4 separate regions of the Homo sapiens genome follow, and regions 1, 2 and 3 are each linked to region 4. The links come from fine-mapping of genetic effects on gene expression. A gene starts in region 4. Each other region holds a variant in brackets. All regions are shown on one strand. Distances are between the middles of the regions.

Region 1 (2,690 bases), 190 kb before region 4:
AAAGAGTTTTACCCCTTAGATATAGACCATTAACTTCAGAGATCCTTCAAAAACAATAAAAGTAAAGTGAGAGTTGTTGCTAATGACGGCTATGCTAACTTGTGTATAAATAAAGCATATAGCTATACATAGGGGATAGATTTTGACAGTCTTAACAACAGTTCAACTTTACCAGTGCACCAAATTTCTAAGCAGTGCAGTTCCATTAAATGCACCACTTTCTGTCCCTTCTCTATATTTAAGAAGGATAAGCATATCGACAGGCAACTCTCTCTTTGTATTATCACCAAAGAGAAGTACAGAGAAAAAAACACCTTCTCAGATTATATGGAGGCATTTAACAGCAAGAGTGAACAATGTCATGGTTGATAAATTTGAGCTAAGATAAGAGAAGTCAGAAAAGCATTAAAATTCTTTTCAATGATAGCAAACAAATTATTTGGGAGGGAATAAAGACTGTGCATGTGCTAGATTATAGAATTGTAATGCAGAAAAATATACTTGCCCTACAAAATGCATGCTTTCTCAAAATGCTTATTTCAAATTCTGCAGACTGTGAAAATAAAGCCTTTATCTTATCTGTAACACATCTTAGAGACATCAACTTTAAAGCCCTAGTGGAATTGCGAACGGAAATTATTATACTGATAGAATTTTTGCATCTGATACACATATACTTAATCAGTGTTGTTTAGTTTATATGGTAAATAAAGTTGTTGAACATTACTTTAAGTTACAAACTAAACCAAGCATAGAGACCGCATGAACCACTTTAACTGATAAATAAATCAGTAATGTTCAGAAAAAGTGAAAAGCTTCAGAATTTGAACATTATTTCTCTATTAGAAACTCAGGGGAATATTTAAAAGATCATATTCAGTTGATATATTTGTGAAATAACTAGTAAGTATTTACATTCTACGGCACTCAATGTTTTAATGTGCGTATGTTTGGTTTTAACAGGAAAGGATAAATAATGTCAATTTTATAAGATTGAGATATAAAGGCGTTATATCCTTAGTAATTTACATAAAATTTTGGCAGGAGTTTTTGCAACTACATATATAATAAG[T/TACC]ACATCTGAGGAAACCAGACATTATTGTTTTAAAAAACATCTCAATAATGAGTTACTATTTAATGAGTGCAGAGTTTCTGTTTAGGTTGATAAAAAAGTTCTGCAGATGGATGGTAGTGATGGGTTCACAACAATGTGAATGTACTTAATACCACTAAACTATACACTTAAAACAGTTAAGCTGGTAAATTTCATGCTATGTGCATTTTACCACAATTAAAAATAAAGGGAAAAAATGCCCTGTCACTAACACTTATCCATTGGAAAATAAACTTATATATTCTTCTACTTATATATAAGAATATATAAAATATAGTCATATATTTTTCTCTACTGAAATGTGACATATATCAGAAAACCTTAGTCTAGAGAAAGGAAGAGGGGCTCTGTCATTAACCTGATAACCATTGGATTACATCTGCTTTAAATGGGAAAGTTCAATGTCTATTTGAAACCTATATGATAGAGAAAGGCTGAGATTTAATACTTTAATTCTCAACCATGAGATTTTAAATCTACTTTGGATTAAGAAATTTAAGACTGATAAATGATGAGTGTGATTTGATTTCTGTTTGCTTCAGAACGTGTGCACTTCCACTGAAGATGATTTATAAGGTCAAAGAATGTTCATGACACTATGAGTATGTGAAATGGGATCAAGTTCTTTCTGACACATGAGCTCCCTTGACAAAGTTGCTGGCACTTTTCTCTTTTGGTTTCACTGGAAATCCATTTTAAAACTAAATCTCTGTGCCTTTTTCAACTCAAATTCAGGACTACTGCAGATACAAGTGGAAGGCAGTATGCATGAAACTACCTTCAGCGATTGAAAAATCTTGCCATTCTTAATTTTCTTACCTGCACTTTCCAATATGAAAACTTAACTTCCCATCTAATCCCCACATAACTTGTGGTCATATTTTTAAAGGAACTGAGTGCCATAGTCGCTGGGCTGTGGTATCACTGTTCACACAGCTGTTTCTAACTTTAGTCAACTTGTCAACAATGGGGAATGGCGGGATGGGGCTGAGACAACTGCTCAAGTTGAGCACATAAGTGGAGAAAAACACCCCAAGCTTGGGGTGAGAAAAAGTTTACCCTGTTAGAAATCTTGAAATGGTGTTATAATTCATATTAAAGTTCCTCAAAGTCTTCAGAAAATTAGGGAAAATATATTTTTAATGAATAATTTTATTTTCCCATCTTTTCACATGTTCAGCTCTTCTATATTTACCATAGAATAAACAGACTGAGTTAACATAGCTATAATTAGAAATAAGTTATTAAGATTTAAAAACTATAGCTATTTTGAAATTAGCAGAATGAGCATCTTTGCCAAATTTTCCAGCATGCCGTAAGCCCCTTCTCAGGGTTAGGAATAAACAAAGCTTCTTTGGAAAGAAGCAGAAGGGAAAGAGGCTGATGCCAAGTGAGGCTGGCTTGCTATTGTTAGTCTTGACGAAGCTGGTTGAGCCAGCTTTGGCATAAGAATGTATTATTTATAAGTTTGCTGCTGTCAAGGCCAATTTGTGTGAGGGACATGGGATATTTAAAACAGAAATGCATTTAATGCATTTAAAAAGAAAGCCTTTCCTTAGAACTATGGCACATGTTTGGC
Region 2 (2,690 bases), 220 kb before region 4:
AGAACAAACAAAATGTATCCTCCTGAGTTTAATTTCAAGTCTTTGAAAAGAATGCAGTCTTCAGAAATTAGATAGGAATTTAAGCTCTAATTCATAAAACATCACTTTCCTCCATGGAACTAGTTGAAGATTACATATTAACAGCACTCCTTTAATTTAATATTCTAAAAAAACAGCATCTAAAAAAAAAGAAATAGTGAGCAGGAGGCCGGTCTGATGACAAATTACATTAAACAATATCATTATCCTTAGCCCTCAGTGTTTTCCATTTTCCAGATGTTTAAAAGACACAAAATGAAAACTCTCAATTGCCCAAGAGGTAGATGATGAACTCATTTTCCAGACAGGAAACTGAGGCAATGAGGCTTTGCCATAAAGTATAAAAATGGTCATCAGCAGAATCAAGATTAGAAGCAGAAACACCTGGTTACACATTGCTGCTCAAAACACATCAATAGAATGTCAGGAATAACGTTGGTTCTTTCTTGCAACCTGTGTTCCATCTTGCTGTATGACATGCAGAGCTGACAAAAGATGGAAACTCTATTTAAAGTTGATGGCACATCTATCCTCCAATGTCAAACCCGTGAGAGCAACATGAGGAATGATTATTTACAATGACATCATCAGACTCAGGAACGTAGTCTACGTTGAAATTACACAGAATGCATTTCGGTAACAAGATCAAGACATGGAAAGCAAAATTAAAGGACAGCTAATGCAAAAATACAACATCAATTCAATAGTTCTACTGATATTCCCTACAAAGGGATGTTTTAAAATACAATTAAAAATATATTATTGAACAACCATATTTGAAATTTAGCACATTTCTATGCCGATGTCAGCCTTCATCTGCACGCCCTTAAATTAGGAGGGAATAGGCATAGAATAATTTTGCTGCATATTATGTTGAAAACATCTGTTTCTAGAGTACAAAAATCTGTTCTTATCCACTACAGATAATTTACCAAGCTTCTCAAATATATTAAACGCTCCAGAAAATTTGATTATTTCACCTAGCAGTGGTATTAGCCAAACAAGTATGGTGATCAGACTGGAGATACACTTGGTGGGAGATGCTTTGCAGGAGGTGCAGGAAGATAAACGGCGGCACTTTTCTT[T/C]AGGCACATGAGAATGATGTCCATTGGTGCCAACACCACAGTTATTGTGTGAGGAGCCAGTACATTAGGGACACACTAACATAGACGACACACAGGGTTATCCAGTTTACTCTTGTGATTGGCAGCCTGCAGTTACCTGTCACGTGGAGGATGACATTGGAAGAGAGAGCGCCGCTAGAGTTTTGGGCCCGAGCCACATAGAGGCCTGCGTCTGCCTTGCATACCTTTGGAATGAACACCGAATGCCTTGTCTCCTTGTGTAAAACCTGTAAGTGCCCATCTGCAGACAATTTCTGGCCCTTCTTGTACCTGAAGCAGAGAGGCAGTTTTTAAAGTCAGGATTGCTGTTTATTCACATTATTTCCAAGTTCTAATAATGCTTGCAAATAGGCCCATTACCACTGCAATATTCTCTTAGGATTAGTAGGAACCTTGTAGCCACAACAAATTCCAGTGGGGCTCTTTATCTTTTTTTCTTTAGTAGGCTAGATTGCAGTAGCAGAATCAGAGATCATTGCGGTCTCAAACTCCTGGGATCAAGCAATCCTCCCACCTCAGGCTCTCAAGTAGCTGGGACTACAGGCGCTTACCACCATGTGCAGGCTAAGTTTTTTATTTTTTATTTTTTTTAAGAGATAGGATCTCGCTATGTTACCCAGGCTGGTCTTGAACTCCTGGTTTCAAGCAATCTGCCTGCCTCAGCCTCCTGAGTAGCTGGTATTATGCGCTGTTTATCTTTCAAGCAGAAGTTGGCAACTGGTGGCGAGAGAATTGCTTTGACTGGCTCAGACAATGTTTTTGGAAAACTGAATTTTTTGAAATCCTTTAAAAATTGGAATATTGCATATGAAAATTCAGATATCCAGCTACCCCTAAAAACAAAAACAAAAACAAAGCAGACCATTTGGTCACACTAGGCCACCATTTGCTCATAGTAACAATTACCTAGGGTGTGAAATGGCACCCTCATGTTGTCCAGCTTTATTCTTTTTGCCACTCTGGAACAGCAGCTGTGACTCCTTATAAACTGCATGGGAGTGAGACTCATCTACCCCATCATATTCATACCACAGTATCCACAGGACAATACAGATGTGCTGTTTTAGAGGACTGTACTTAATATCACCTCCTGATGAGATCACTTCATTTAATTTTTTTGAAGCAATTTCATTAGAAGAAAATGACTTCTAATTATAAAAGGTATTTATGCAACTGTATTATGACTATTAATAACATATTTCTAGAAGGTTCCTATGAACATGAGTGCTTAACTGCATGGTTTTATAAAGAAATAATTTTATTTTGTATGTCTGAGATTCTTGTTTATTTATTTCTACCCACAATCTATCACTCAGGGGTGATGACAAATGTGAATCGTTTTCTGTTCCCATTGCCTAAGTGATAACTTTGCCTTTTCTTGGGTATCCTAAGAATGTATGATATCCTGAAAGCTTGTCAGTTATTAATTGAGCACAGTTGTAAATCTGACGACAAAACATTTGTTTACAACATTGCAATATTCTTCAACGACACGTATGTAGCAGTGCTTCTTTAACCACACACATA
Region 3 (2,690 bases), 230 kb after region 4:
AGCAGCTTTAGGCACAAAATGTATTTGCTGTGTGTGTCAGAGCTGATAGCTCACTGTAGGACACAAAAACCTCTAAAAATAGTGCATAAATTATATTTTCCCCCACAATGTGAGAGATTGTCTTTTTCCCCATACTCTTTCCAAAAATGAGTATTTACAGTTTTTTTTTTCATTCATTCATTCAACAAACATTTATTGAGTGCCTTTTATGTTAAAGTATTATATTGGGAATTGAGGATGCTACAGCAAATAAAACAAAAATTCCTATCTTATGGAACTTACATTGTAATGAGAGAGGAGACAGAAAAAGAAGTAAAATGTGCATTTGTCAAAGAAATGTTATGGAGAAAAATTAAGGAGGGAGAAGTAATAAGGAATGGGAGATAGTTTGGGTTTTAGATTGGATGACCTGGAAGGTCTCACCAGGAAGGTAGCCACTGAACAAAGACTGGAGAAGGTGAGGGGAGGGAACTATGGGAATGTTCATCTGTAGGAAGAACATTTCAAGCAGAGGAAACAGCATATGAAAGGACCTGAGGTGAGGTCATATCTGCCAGGGCAAGGGGGAAAAGGGAATGGGAGGAGGGAAGAGAGATTGTATAGAGCCTTTTAGGGAATTGTAAGGACTAAGGCTTCAGCTCTGAGCAAGTTGAAAAACTTTTGAGCAGAGGAGTGATAAGTGGGGTTTGTATTTTTAAAGACTCACTCTGGCTGCTGCGTGCAACCAGAATGAATCCCTTGGGGGAAGGGTGGAAGTACAGAGACCAGCTGCAAGGTGAGAGCTACTACACAGGGCAGACATGATGGTGGCTTGGCCCAGTGTGGTGGCAGCAAGGGTAGTAGGAAGTGGTTAGATTCTGGTTATATGTTAAAGATAGAGCACCAGCATTTCCGGACAGATTGGATGGGAGGTGTCACTAAAACAGAAATCCAGGGATAACTCTGAGGTGTTTGGCCTGAGTTATTAGAATGATAATATTATATTTACTATGGAGAAGATTATGAGGAGGAACAGTTTGGGAAAGAGGCAGAGCTCAATAATTTGGCTTTGAAA[A/G]TGTTAACTTTGGGATGCCTATCAGACAGTAAGCACACATTTAGAATAAGCAGCTGGACAGATGAGCCTGGAGTTAAAGAAGGAGGTCTGGACTATAAATATACATTTGGAATGTGTTGGTGTAGCAGTGTATATATAATGTTAAAACCATGAGACTTGGTGAGATTAACTAGAATAGAGAAGAGGTCTAATGACTCAGCTCTGGAGTACTCTAACATTTAGAAGCAGGGAAAATGAGGAGGAATCAGCAAAGGAGACTGAGGAGAAACAGCCAGTGAGGTTGGAGAAAAACCAGGACAGTGTGTTATCCTGGAAACCAAGCAAATAAAGTTTTCAAAGGACGAGGGAATGAACAACTCGGTCAAATGCGACTAATAGGGCAACTGTTTCAGTCAGACTTTTTCTGAAATAGAACCAATAGGATGTGTGTATAGAGACTTTTTTTTAAGGAAATTAGCTCATGCAATTATGGAGGCTAGCAAGTCCAAAATCTATAGGGTAGGTGGACAGGCTAGATATCCAGGAAGAGCTCATGATGTAATTCAAGTCCAAAGGTCATCTGCTACACAATTCCTTCTTGCTCAAGGAAGGACAGTCTTTTGTTCTATTGAGGCCTTCAATTGATTGGATGAGGCCCGCCCATGTTACAGAGGGCAATCTGCTTTCCTCAAAATTGACTGTTGTAAGTGTAAATCTCATACCAAACCATGCTCACAGAAACATCCAAAAAGTGTTTGTCCAAATATTTGGACAATATGGCCCAGCCAAGTTGACACATGAAAATACTTATCACATAAAGGAAGGGTGGAACAAGATGGTGGAATAGAAGCCTCCACCAATCTTCCTGCTACAAGGATACCCATTTAAGAACTATCTACACACAAAAAAAACCTTCATAAGAACCAAAAATTAGGTGAGCACTGATAGTACCTGATTTTAACTTCATATTGCAGAAAGAGGCACTGAAGAGGTAAGAAAAACAGTTTTGAATCACTGATGCCACCCCTCCCCCATCCCCCGGGCAGCAGTGGCGTGGTGCAGAGGACATTTCTATGCACTAGGGAGAGGGAGAGCCAGCATCTATGAGGCATTGAACTCAGTGTTGCCCTTACTGTAGCAGCAAAACCAGGCCAAACTCAGCTGACATCCGCCCATGGAGGGTGCATTTAAAATAGCTCTAGCCAGAGTAGATTCACTAATGCTGGCAGTCGGAACTTGAGTTCCTGCAAGGCTTACCACTGCAGGCTAAAGTGCTCTGGTGCTTCAGATAAACTTGAAAGACAGTGTAAGCCACAAGGACTGCAACACCTAGGACAGCCCTAGTGCTTAACTGGGCCAGAGCCAGTGAACTGGGTGGGGCAGAGGGTTGGGGGCCACGCAAGCTACTGGGACATCATCTGGGACAGCTAAGGGAATGCGAGCATCACCCCTCCCTTAACCCCAGGTTGCACAGCTTGTGGCTTCTAAAGAGACCTCTTCTTTCTGCTTGAGGAGAGAAGACAGAAAAGTAGGGAGGACTTTGTCTTACCCTTTGGGTAGCAGCTCAGCCAGAGCAGAATAGGGCACCAGTCAGAGTTGTGAGGCTCCTGTTCCAGGCCTTAGCTCCCAGATGACATTTCTAGATACATCCTGGGCC
Region 4 (2,690 bases):
AGGCCAGAAAAGTCATTCAATTAAACCTGGTGGGGACCTGAAAGTAACTGGTTTGTGACCATCAGCTTGTTTGCCAGCTTTCCCTTCATTAAACACTGAATTATTTAGGTGGAATATCATCTAAAGCCCAAGCCTAGTGCTTGAAAGCTTTTTTTTACAGGGCATTTCCATGGAGAATAAAATCATGGAGTTCTTCTTCAGCCTAAAGATGTGTGGTCATCTTTGCAAATGGGCAAATGGGTTGTCATAAAACATGCAGTAATTGTAAACCCTAAGTGGCTTCTACTTCCTGCTGTTAAGAGCAAATTTGACACAAAGCTTTTGTACCTTTCCTTGCATGGTCTTCGTTACTGGACAAGGATTTAGTAGTTTCTTTACCATGTCAAAACCAGTGTGGCAAAGGGCACATGTCGGAGCCCTTTACTTGGTGTTTTCTGAGTTCCATCGTGCTTAAAGCAGTGCCCTCCCCCTGTCTGTCGGGACCTGCCTCCTCCCACCTCCATCACATCCACTCTCAAAAATCACAAGCATTCCACAGGTCCATTGGACTCTTTAGTCAGGCAATCATGAACTTCCAGTTACCAATGCCTTGCTTTTAAAGACCAAATTGACAGTATATGCTAGAGGTTTTCTTTTCTTTATTTTTCTTTCTTTTCTTTTTTTTTTTTTTTTTAAATCAAGCTGCTATAGATGCTTTCTGGCTGACTGAAAGGAAAGAGAATCTCTGGTAACTGCTGAAACTTGTAGAGGTTTCTCTTAGTAGCCCATTTTAGAAAGCAGTAAGAGTGCTTGCTGCGTTGTCTTCTCTATGCTGTGTCCTGCCGATTGCATGGAATGTTCTTTAGGGTTTTCAACACACAGCTAGAAGCCCACAGCCGCACAGAAAAAAGGAAGTTGTTAGCTTACCTTTATGACAGCTATAACGATTTTGGAGTCCCCAGCCTGCACAGCAACTGAACTGACTGTCGTCGTAGAAAGCGCAACACTAGGACTTCCTTGGCTGGACATGGTACTTTAGAACCAGAGTTTATACTTTGGGCAGCCTCTGGACAGTTGTGTGTCTGCTGGTCATTTCAGAAGGCCAGGGTTACTTGGATTCATTCAGGGAAAGAGCTCAGCTCACACTGATTACTCTGCCAAAAGGAAAGAACAGGAGGTTAAAAATAGACAACCCCATTGAGTTTATCGTGAGAGAGAAAGGAGCGAACGAGAGAGAATTGCCACGCCCCTAGTATGGTGACACTAAGTGCCTGTTATTTTTGCTGTTATCTTAAATGTGGAGGACAGCTTCAAGCTCTTTCCTTATCAGCTGATGTTTGATAACAAATGGAAAAAAAAATTACATCCTGACAACCCAAATTAGTTTTGCCACCGAAACTATGCCATTGTAACCATGGACTTTGAAACAAGTAAGTCTTTGACCTGGTTATCAATCTTTTCAAGATTTTTGAAATCTCTCTGATGCAAAGAGAACTACCAAAGTGTACTTTAAAAAAGTTTTGGTATTTGTCTTGGGGTTAAGTCACAAATTGCTTAAAACACATTTTTAGATTAATCTGCTTTTCTAAAACTTACTGTTCTTTGCTAAATGAAGTTTAGATGGAATAGCCACATTTTCTCAGAGCCTCAGATTTCTTAGGAATTTTTAAAAAATATTTCAACCAGCATTTATAAATAGGTGCCTATCATTTCAGATTTTCTTTGTGACTATTCTGCTCCATTGGACAAGGTTTTCAAGTTCAGTTATTAATACCATGAGAAAGCAAAATACTTTGCTGTTACCTTTTAATTGCAGCAAGAAAATGTTTTCTGTGTGGTTAAAAGTTATTAAGACATATATTTTGCTGCAATTAAAAACAAAAACAAAAAGGAAAGTACTGTGCTTCAGGCTTTTTATTCCCTACCCCCACCTCCTGTTCAGGAAAATTATAGCCAGCTTCAAATCAGTGCCCCACATTGGTAGATTAATCCTATTGCTAGAAACTCAGCCTGTGTCACAAGTTGTCTGTGGTATTAAACAGCAGCTGTTGGATTCCCTGTCAAAGAACAGCTGAAAATAACACTAAAGTTTAGGTCAGAAGTCAGATGCAAACATATCAGAGTTACTAACTCCAAAGCTGCTGGAAGCATTGGAAATCTCTGGGACAAAGCCACAACAGAGAATATAGCAAAAAACAGTTTTAATGAATCCACTTGCTCTGTAAACCTTTTAGCCCAATTTAATAGTAGGTTCAGGTTCAGGGCCAATGTTTAGAAGACTGAGTCAGCTCCATTGCTTTGTTTTGCTAAGGTTCATGATCATATTCTTGATTCAAAGGGGAAAAGTACTTTTACACATACTTCAGTGTTCAATTATTTTTGTTTCCAAGAGCATGTCATGGCTGCTCTGCAGCTGTGTAGCCACCACCCATGTCCTCTGCGCTCAGCATCTGCCTGCTGCCCCAGTGAGATGGAAACCATACCTAGATCCTAGTCCCTATGCAACACGAACTTCACCTGACCCCATGAAGGGAACAATTGGAGCGAGCTCAGGAAAGCAGATGCCGAGCAAGCTATGATGTAGCAACTATTGCAAATGGTTTCATTTTATGGCAGGGCTGGAGAGCTTGCAAAGAGGTAACTGACCTGGAAGGTTGCAGGCAGGCTCCTTCTTTCACTTGCATCTGTGTGAAGAGACCACCAAACAGGCT

Direction of the effects. Positions count from the first base shown, and alleles are read on the strand shown. Sizes are in standard deviations (SD) of each study's normalised expression. Not every link is listed here.
For the expression in skeletal muscle of the gene that starts at base 1,204 in region 4, T is the low allele of the variant in region 1 and TACC is the other (small effect, 0.19 SD a copy in GTEx).
For the expression in caudate of the gene that starts at base 1,204 in region 4, A is the low allele of the variant in region 3 and G is the other (small effect, 0.26 SD a copy in GTEx).

What was found.
Region 1: its variant is fine-mapped to the expression of CCDC141 in skeletal muscle (GTEx, PIP above 0.99).
Region 2: its variant is fine-mapped to the expression of CCDC141 in whole blood (TOPMed, PIP 0.99).
Region 3: its variant is fine-mapped to the expression of CCDC141 in caudate (GTEx, PIP 0.98).

Annotation. Positions count from the first base shown.
Region 1 is chr2:178,857,371-178,860,060 of GRCh38, forward strand. All of the region lies in intron 17 of CCDC141 (coiled-coil domain containing 141), which reads right to left. Among named protein-coding and RNA genes, the nearest start is that of TTN, 51 kb to the left of the region's middle. The variant T/TACC (reference allele first, on the strand shown) is at 1,073.
Region 2 is chr2:178,833,008-178,835,697 of GRCh38, forward strand. CCDC141 (coiled-coil domain containing 141) reads right to left here. Exons shown (of 24, transcript NM_173648.4): 24 at 1-1,433. The coding sequence ends at 1,166. Among named protein-coding and RNA genes, the nearest start is that of TTN, 27 kb to the left of the region's middle. The variant T/C (reference allele first, on the strand shown) is at 1,125.
Region 3 is chr2:179,274,170-179,276,859 of GRCh38, forward strand. No RefSeq gene overlaps it. Among named protein-coding and RNA genes, the nearest start is that of SESTD1, 11 kb to the left of the region's middle. RefSeq lists an enhancer at 728-777. The variant A/G (reference allele first, on the strand shown) is at 1,055.
Region 4 is chr2:179,048,934-179,051,623 of GRCh38, forward strand. It overlaps CCDC141 (coiled-coil domain containing 141), which reads right to left and starts at 1,204. Exons shown (of 24, transcript NM_173648.4): 1 at 907-1,204. The coding sequence starts at 1,008. RefSeq lists enhancers at 701-750, 941-1,190, 1,201-1,280.